Homo sapiens: one gene and its partner. The protein of the gene in region 1 purifies or fractionates together with the protein of each later gene. This does not show direct contact. Each region holds a gene or a part of one and is shown on either strand. Other genes may lie near its edges.

Region 1 (4,788 bases):
AATATCTTTATTCACTTTGCTCAACCCCTCTGTAGTAACTGGGGTCCTTGTTGCCATGATTTTGTGACAATGGCTCTTGATTTTGGTGACAGATGATGCTAGGTTTATTATGGCCATAGTAAAGACCAAATTCAAAACACTCTTTTCTTTTTTTCCTTTTTTTTTTTCTATACTAGAATATCATTGTTTTGGCTGCACACAAGATGAAGTAAGTGGCTTTCATTTAGAGGCCATGTTTTACCAAAAAATATGTTTCTTAAAATACTAGATTCCCCTCAGCATAATGAGATACTCACTTTTGGGGAGGGTGTCAGAAATTGCTGGAGCAACAGATTAATGATCCCCATTTCAGTTTCACATCAGGCATGGGCTCATTGAACACAATGGCTGGTGGGTGAAGTCACCCATACTGTTAAATTATCCTCTCTCTCTGACTGAACACATATGCTTAAATTAGGATAAAAGTTAGGACTATTCTCAATTGTCTTTTAAAGCTTGAGAGGGGAGTGGGCTCTCACTATGAAGAAAAATATATTTCTTAAGACGGATGATCTTTTTAAATGCTTAAACACCAAGTATATATATTTTCGAACATAGCAAATTGCAATTAATTAATGAATCCACTGAATTTTACCTTCTAGTTGAATTTGCAAGGTCATATGAGTAAACACTGATGTGAATTTTAAGTCTTGGTGACATGTAACAGGAAAGACAAGGTCTAAATTTTAAGAAAAGACTGAAAAGCCACTTACTTCTTGCAAATGGAAGAAAACTCTGTGCTATTTGAATTATTGTTTAAGAAAATCCTATGCAGTTTAAGAAAAACAGGATAAGAACTAACACAAAATGCTGCTTTTCTTTAGACAGATCATTAAGTCTCTCCACCTAAACTCTTGAAAAATCTGTAACGATTTTGTCTGCTTGTCAAATTGCTCCTCCAGTAATTTCACAGTTACAACCCACGCACATATCGACAGAGCATTTCGATTCAAATGTAACTTTCTAACAACAAACTTATATAGAAAAGGTGTCATAGGCGTAATTGAGAGGAACAGAAGATCAAGAGTGAAGAAAATTACATCTTCTTTTCTCAATTAAGAAAAAAACCTAAATCATAAATATTGTATTCATATACATTTACAAACTGATAGACCACTAAACGTTTTTTCTGATTTAAAACTGCTTTCCACCACTGCTGCTGGTGCATATATTAATGAGGAAAAACCCACTGTGACAGAAATCTTCCCCTCACGGCATAGCCACCTCCACCCCCATAAAAGAAAGCTTTTCAGTGTTACCTGAGAAAAAAACATCACAACTAATTACATCATTTTTCTTGGTTCCCGCATCTACCAAGGCTTGCTCAGACACATTCAACCTGTTACCACAATCCATGATTTAACTCAAGGTTTTATTTAGTGTAATGAATATCATTCCTCTATTTAAAATGCTGTTTATCTTTCCTTAAGCAAATTGATCGGCCAATAAGTATCATTATTAGGTATTACAAAAAAGATGTTGTCATAAGGTAATTTATTCTAAGTTAAAATAGTCCACTGAGATGTCTTGTAAGAACAGAAATTACCATTAAAATGTCCCATTTACAATCACTGATGAAAACTTGGGCTATTTGTGCATATAATAAAGGGAGCTGAGGTTTTTTAATTTAAAAATAGATCACATGCTATTAATGTAGATTTTTGTGTTTCTATTACAGATTATCATGAATAAGGGTACTAAGGACTAAAATTGGGAAATCAACTTATCTATTATCTCTTGCTTATATAAAACCTTCATGTATTTAATATCGATGGTCCTTTATTACGTGTGTGTGTGTGTGTGTATGCACCATATATGCCTCAAAGTATGTGTGTGTACATTAAGAGAAGAAACCCAGCATAGCTAAATGGCTAAAAATATGGTAACTATACTGTGCTTCCACCCTATATATTTTATCACATAAAATACAGTTTTTTACGATAAGTGCCTTTATATACATTTGAAATTAACTTTGACAGCTGAATCTTTTTCAACACTACTCTTGAATATTACCTTTATGTAGTATTACCTGTGTTACTGCTTCAGTACTAAGAAAATGAGACCATTTTCTCTGACATTACATAAGCCCGACAGCAGACGAGAGAAACGCTGCCTATCTGGGGTGAAAGCTAGCTCCCTCTGAAGCTACCATTTGACACGTTAAAACAATTCTCGAGTTGATTGAATCATTCCAAATTACCAATATTTGACCATTTCAACCTTCAAAAATGGAAATTTCACTTTAACTCATACAGCCAGATATACCTAGACAAGCTTTAAAAACACATAAAAAAATTTCCTTTAACATTATTACTCAGAAGTTGATTACAGTCAACTATATAGAAAGGAAAATCTTAACGCTTCCATACACCCTGAAAATTTATGAACTTTTGCTCCATCTGCTTAAACCTATATTGCATCCTCGTTTTTAGTTTTTATTTTTTAAAGATTGTTTTAAAAAGGTGCACCAATCAAAAGATAATTAATGGTCTTGGTCTTTGTTCTATCAGATGTCCATGCAAAGATATGGATAATGGTTCCATCACCAAATTTTTAACTAACTCCAAATATTGTATTTGTGGCTCACACTAGGGATCCCTTGACCCAGCTCGGCAAGTGTGAAATCACGAAATAAATGAAGGTTAACAAAGACTGGTCTAAGGAATAGTTCACTACAATACCGCAATGCTCTTCTCACTAATACTCGACTCTGCATTTCGGTACTTATATCTGAAAGATTTGCAAATAATGACAACATTCGTGCCAGACATTACTGCAAGTGAGGAACAGACTAAAGGAGAGGAAGGAACAAAATGCCTTCCAAGAGAGAAACATTCATTAGCCTTACTGGCAAGTGTCTAAAGCAAACAAGGAAACTGCAAAATAATTACTTAGTTACAAATAAACGCTTTTAGCACAGTACCTTTTTGTGTCTGTCCCTCTTCCATATTCTCTTCCATGGCTACCTTTCTTCAGTAGAATCTGGTACACGGAATTAATCAAAAGCTCAATTAGATGTTGGAAAAACTGGGGGTTTTTTTTTTTTTTTTTTTTTTTTTTTTTTTTTTTTTTTCCTGGGAAGCTCCAACAGCAGTGGCTTGGGCAAGTCCTCAGAGCTTAGCTCAGGCTCCCTCGTTCCTCTTGTTTGCTTGGAGACAGGCTGTCAAGTGTAATTTCATTCAAATTACTCTTCCGTGAAGATTATCAATTTTTCTTCTCAAAGCTGCCCATTGTGTACCACTGTAAGCAGGTATTCAAACAAATAGCCTGAGAATTTTGGGGGGAAATTTGGTCTGAATCCCAGGAGCAGAGACACTATGATTCACAAGTCTTGCTTTGCATTTAAAATGGGGAAAAGAAATTGAGGTTTGTATTGAAATCTGGGCTTTAAATTGGAAACAGGCTGAGCTGTGAACAGATGGAGGGGTGTCCTCCTAACATGAAGCCGACCACCAACCCGTAATTCCCCCCTTCATTCCAGAGTGGGAAAGCCCAGATTCCCGTCGGTTCTTTATGCTGCAGCAGTGGCTTCTCACCCAGTCAGATACGTTGCAAAAAAACTGTGTTTTCCTTTTCTCTCCTCACTAAGTATTTAGTTAATTTGATTTAAGGTGCCAAGAAAGGATGCAGTTATACCATCTCAGGGTTTATCTGCAAAAGTTTATTACTAAGACAGGACTTGTAATCCCACACCTTTGAGATTTAAAAAGAAATAGAAGCGTGGCTGTCAAAGGAGTGAGTATAAAGCTCTAAGCCTGAGAGATACATGTTTTAAGTAATTATTTTACTTAGTGCCATATGACTCTTAAGTAAAAGGGAGAAAACCACTGGAAGGAAAAACCCTATTGATGTCTTTGTTATTTATTGTTATGATTATAGCCCACGAAAGCTGCTGGTTTCCAATGAGAATCTCTTGAAAGGGAATTTCTTTAAAGGTCAGTGTTAGGGAATGAGAAGAGTGATGTAAGGGAGGAACAAATTTTAGATAAGAAACAAGAGGATAGCAATTTATAATGGGAATCTGCAAGCTGATTTGGAATGCAAATCACAATGCTGCAGTCTGGCGATAATTAGCATTTGTACTTCAGCCTACTGAGTGACAGGGCACAGTCCAAGAGTCTCAATACTTCACAAAAGGTATAGCAAGAAAATAAACAGTATCTCTTTCAAGGAGCATAAACCTTTCCTAGAGTAGAAAGAAAGGATCCTTGCCTCTGTCTTCATCTCCAAATCAGCCAGCACACACACACACAGGGACAGAAACACACACAGAGGGACAGAAAGACACACACAAGCACACACACGGAGAGGCACACACACACACAAGGACACACACACAGACATAACTGTAACTCTCTGCCTTTAATGAAAAATAGCTCACATCCTCATTATCCATAGCATACGTTTCTTGCATTATAGCTTGTATTTCACATGCATTCTTTAAAGCAGGCCAGTAGCATGCTGCACATCACCCTCTAAATATTACAAAAGCAGCTATTTAGAGGAAACACAATTACTGCATTCCACTTTATTTCTCATAAATGAATGTTTAGTCCTCTTACTTGTATAATCATTTGTTATTATTTTCTCTTTTCAAATGAATTTTGTCCAAAAATAACTGGAGTTCAAATAACTCAAAACCTATCTCTTTGGAATATATATCAATGTGTATTCAAGGGTTTTTGAGAGAGCTGCTTGCTCAGTGCACAGATTGAGAGAGAGAAACCATAAGGGAAATCAAAAAGCCAA
Region 2 (4,799 bases), on another chromosome or scaffold:
TATTGAGCACCTACTGCATACCAGGTGCGAGTTCTAGGCACTAAGGGTGCAACAGAGGAGAATGTCCTGCTCTCATGGGCAAAGACCAGAAACTAACAAGTATACCATAATATGTCAGGTGGTGGCAAATGCTTCAGAGAGCGATAAATGAGGGGAGAAGAGAGGTGCAGGAGGGGAGTGGTTTGCTATGCTGTGCGGATGGACAGGGGAGGCCTAATGTGAGAGAGTGAGCCATGAGGCCACCTGCAGGAAGGGGATTCCAAGCACTGGCCCAGAGGTAGGAGTGTGCACGGAGGATGACATGCCTGGAGGGAAGACGGGGACAGAAGACAGCAGGGGACAGAGGCCAGGGAGGATTCAGGCCTGAGTTAGAATCAAAAGGGCACTCTGGCTGTTGTGTGGGGGCGAGAAGTAAGGCAGAAGTTGGGAGCCCTGCTGGAGGCCTGTGCAACAATCCACCAAGCCAAACAAAGAAGCAAAGCCATTCATAGCAGGAAAGGCTTAGAGAGCACCTTACCTTTTCCCAGAGCAATGGGGAGCATCCAGTCCAGACCCAGGTGAGCTCTCGGCCCAAACCCAAACTCTTCTGCCAATCTACCAGCCCCCAATGAGGACAAGCGGGGACAAACTGCAACATGGTTCACGAGCTCTCCCCAAACCCAGAAGTCCTTGCTTTCTCCCTCGCTGGGGACAAAACAGTCACCAGTGAAGATACCCGGTCAACCCAGAGAAGGTCCTGCTTCTAGTTCAGAAGTTAGGCCAGATATCACACTGCAGGGTCATGTGGGTCAACCACGGCAAGTACTGCTTCCTCCTGCCTCGGCTGCAGCCCTGGGTGTGGGGACTGAGAGGGCAGCCCAGGGGATACTAGAAAAGGCATTTCCAAAACACTCATGTGGCCAGCCCAGGGAAGTGGATCTGAAACTCAGCCCAGAGCTGAGCTCTGGGCCCCCCAGAGCTTCTGCTTGTAAATCATCCCTGAACTTTTTATCCACCCTACTCAAAAAAAAGGGCAGAGTGTGTGGTTAAAGGGTAAAGGGAGAAGCTAATTTATAGGAAGTCTTCACCTTGCTTCAAGGGGAAACCCAAAGTTGCAGATACATGATCTGGCAGCTAGAAAGGGTACCTGGGGGCGGGTGTCTCTATGATAGCCTTACCATGGCCACATGCCCTTGGGAAGTGTTTTTTGATAAAGACAACACAAGTACTAATAGCAGCCAACATAGTGTGCTTGTTACTGGGCTAAAAGCTTGCATGTGTGACCTCATGCCACCCTCAGGACAACCTTACGGGGTGGGTACTATTATAAATCCCATTTTACTGATGAGGAAACTGGGGCACTGAGGGGGTGAAGTGACTGCCCTGAGGTCACGCAATTAGTGGGTGGTGGAGCTGGGATTTGAACCAGGTCTGTTAGAGTTCTTAACTACACTGTATAATTAAGAGGAACAACCACAAAGGATGGGGAGTTGGGAGGGGACAGCAGGGCTTATGAAGCAAGGGTGGGTGGGTGGGCGTGTGAGTGTGTGTGCAAGGAATCACAGTGCAGGTGGCTCAGAGGTGGGTGGAAAACTTCTAATACAAATATATGACCCTCCATCCATAAAATGGAGATTATGTGTGGGCCAATCCTGGGTCACCGGGGGATATGAAGAGGACAAAAACCTAGGGGGGCAAATATGACCTGTCACACGAAAGCACTCCGAAGTCTTTCCTGAAAAACAACAAGGCACCGCAGCTGTTGCTGATGTGGAACAGGCCAGAGGGACGTTCCAGAATGTTGAGCAGGGAAAGAAAGCCAGGTGGTCAGCAGGGGGGCCAGGGGCCTGGGAGCCGGCTGGGTGGAGGCGGGCGGGATCTGAGGGAAGGACAGGAAGCTCTGGAGAACCTAAGGAAGGTTCTGGAGAAGGAAAGGGGGCCCGAGAGGCCCAAAGATTTTGAGAAAAGATGCCTTGGGGCCTAGGGTGTGCGTGGCTGAGGGGAAGCAAAAGCGGGGTTGGTGTCTGAGACTAGAGAAAAGGAGGGGACCCTGGAGGGACCCGGAGAGGGCAGCGAGGATGACTAGGATGTTTATGGTGGGTGTGCACAGCCAAAGGACACACAAGATCTAGAAGTGGTCAGGAAGGGATACAAGGGTCAGAAAGAACTTGGGGGGTTGGCAAGAGATGGTCCAGGGATGGGTGAGCAGGAGGGGCCTGTTCAAGAAGCCCTGGGGCAGGTTCTGAGAGGGCAGCGAGGATGGGGGCCGTGGAGGGGCATGGAGGCTGGTGTTCCTGGCAGTGGCAGGCAGACAGGTGCCAGGGTGGGGTCAGGGAGAATGGAGGGGCTGGGAGGGTGGAGGGCACCAGCGCGGATGGGGTACCCAAATGGACCAAGGAGGATGGGGCATCTGGCGGGGATGGGGGTGCGCAGGGGCCAGGGGGGCAGACAAGAGGCCCGAGGAGGATCCCAAAGGGGCGGGGAGGATGAGGACCAGGGAGGCGAAGGGGAAGGCACGGAGTGCCCAGCAGGGATTGGGAAGGTGGGGTGCGCGGCAGGGGGCTGGGAGGGGGCGCCGAGGCAGCGGAACTCACTCAAAGACGAAGAAGAGGCCGGTGGTGGTGAGGATGAGCAGCAGCGTGAGCGCGAAGACGCCGCCGTGGCCGGCCAGCATGAGGCGGCCGCCGCAGTAGAAGCGATTGCGACCCGGGAACACCTCCCACTTGCGCCGTGGGCGGCGGCCGAGGCTCCCGCTCCCGCTGCCGCTGCCGCTGCCGCTGCTGCTCCAGCGCGGCGGGGCGGGGGCGGCGGGCGGCGCGGGCCCGGGGCCCGGAGTCGGGGACGCGGCGGGGCCGGGACGGCGCGCCCCCGGGGAGGCGGGCAGCGGGGCGGCCCCGGGGCTGATCTGCTGGTACTCGCAGTCCTTCATGCAGCCAGCCGCGGGCCTCGGCTCCGCGCCCCGCGGGCCGGCCGGGCCACTCCGGGACCGGGCCGAGCAGCGGAGGTGGCAGCGGCGGCGCGCGCGGCGCTCGCTCGCTCACTCACTGGGGCGGCCCCGCCATCGCTCCGCCCCCGGCCCGCCGCCACCGCCCGCCGCGGCCTCCCGCCGCAGCGCCCCCTCCGCCTGGGCCCGGGATGGCGCTTGGCCGGAGGCCCAGCTCTGACCCGCGGCGGGGCCCCGCAGGTCCCCGGCCCTCCCAGTCTCCCTTTTCCCTTCTGCACAAAGAGGGGGCCAGCAGACGCGCACTCGAGGGCTCTTTCTGTTCTGCAAGCAAGCCGTTTGTTGGGCGTCCACTGTGTACCAGGCACGGTGCCAAACGCCGAGATTCAGGTGGTGGACTTCGTGATCTACTTCTGGCAGTCTGTAATTCCCCAGGCTTCGCCCATCTCTGAGGGTCGAACTGACAGGCATTTGCAGAGGCAGGCAGGCGCGGGGAGGTGGGGCACACGATTTGCTTTGAAAGCCAGGACCTCTTCTACCTTGAAGTCCAGAGTGCCCACTGGAGGTGTGTGGCACACCCTCTGGCCTCGTTCACCAAGTTCTGTGTCCTGGGCCCAGGCCCAGATTTTCCTAGGTAGCACATAATGTAGAGGGGTCATGCCTGAGGGCCCCAGTGTTTTTTCAGGAATTCTGGGAGTATTCATTTTCTACTGCTGTGTAACAAGTTACCACAAATTTAAGGCTTAAAACAAACATTATCGGCCGGGCGCGGTGTCTCACGCCTGTAATCCCAGCACTTTGGGAGGCCGAGGTGGGTGGATCACAAGGTCGAGAGAGACCATCCTGGCCAATATGGTGAAACCCCGTCTCTACTAAAAATAAAAAATTAGCTGGGCATGGTGGCACGGCATCTATAGTCCCAGCTACTCGGGAGGCTGAGGCAGGAGAATTGCTTGAACCCAGGAGGTGGAGGTTGCAGTGAGCCGAGATTGTGCCATTGCACCCGGCCTGGTGACAGAGCAAGACTCCGTCTCAAAAAAAACAAAAAACAAACGTTATCTAACAGGTTCCAGGTCAGGAGCCAGAGAACAGCTTAGCTGGGTCCTCTGCTTAGTCTCACAAGGCTGCAATCAGGCTGCATTCTCATCTGGAGACTCAGCCAGGGAAGAATCCACTTGCAAGCCCATTTGGGTTATTGGCAGAATTAACTTCCTTGCGACTGTTTAACTGAAGAGGGCCTGGGATTTTTGCTGGGTGACTGTATAACTGAGGAGGGCCTGGGATTTTTGCTGGGTGTCTGCTGGAGGCCTCTCTCAGGATCCAAAAGCCACCTGCAGTTCCTAGAGATTATCACATTTCCTTGCCATGCAGGTTTCTCCTACATAGCCACTTAGTTTCTTGAAACTGACAATGAGGGTCTCTAGCTCCAGACTATGATGATAGAGTTTTATATAACTTACTATATATGTGACAGAGTGGCATCCCATCATCATTGCCATCTCCTATGGTTAAAAGCAAAGCACAGGAGCCATCTGCACTCAAGAAAAGGGAATCACACAAGGCGTAAATACCAGGAGGCAGGAATCATTGGGGGTCAGCTTAGGGTATGTCTGTCACACTGTGGTTACTGTAAAACCTAAGGAAAAGTGCAAGGAAAAAAAGAACTGGAGACTAGGAGAAAGTAAAAAAGGAAGTAAAAATATACAATGGGGAGGAGTAGGAAGCCGACAACAGTGACCTTAAGGATCAATAATTGATATATATGCCAAAGGCTGCTCAGCCGTGCCTTTGGTGCCAAAGGCTCTCAATATGATGAGCCCCATCTTGAGCAAACCACATGGTGAGCTTCCTCCCTTTTTGCTCCTTGGCTGTGGAACAA

Evidence for each region. The genes of interacting proteins can lie anywhere in the genome.
Region 2: the proteins of GPM6A (region 1) and ZDHHC18 purify together in Homo sapiens (affinity purification with mass spectrometry; 2 studies listed by BioGRID and IntAct, with this or other methods). This does not show direct contact.

The regions. Positions count from the first base shown.
Region 1 is NC_000004.12:175,809,229-175,814,016, forward strand, and holds the start of GPM6A (neuronal membrane glycoprotein M6-a), read right to left. Parts: upstream 3,037-4,788; 5' UTR 3,000-3,036; coding exon 2,963-2,999; intron 2,962-2,962; exon of another isoform or gene 2,632-2,961; intron 1-2,631. UniProt on the Homo sapiens protein: Involved in neuronal differentiation, including differentiation and migration of neuronal stem cells. Plays a role in neuronal plasticity and is involved in neurite and filopodia outgrowth, filopodia motility and probably synapse formation.
Region 2 is NC_000001.11:26,824,914-26,829,712, reverse strand, and holds the start of ZDHHC18 (palmitoyltransferase ZDHHC18), read right to left. Parts: upstream 3,026-4,799; 5' UTR 2,909-3,025; coding exon 2,574-2,908; intron 1-2,573. UniProt on the Homo sapiens protein: Palmitoyltransferase that catalyzes the addition of palmitate onto various protein substrates, such as CGAS, HRAS and LCK. Acts as a negative regulator of the cGAS-STING pathway be mediating palmitoylation and inactivation of CGAS.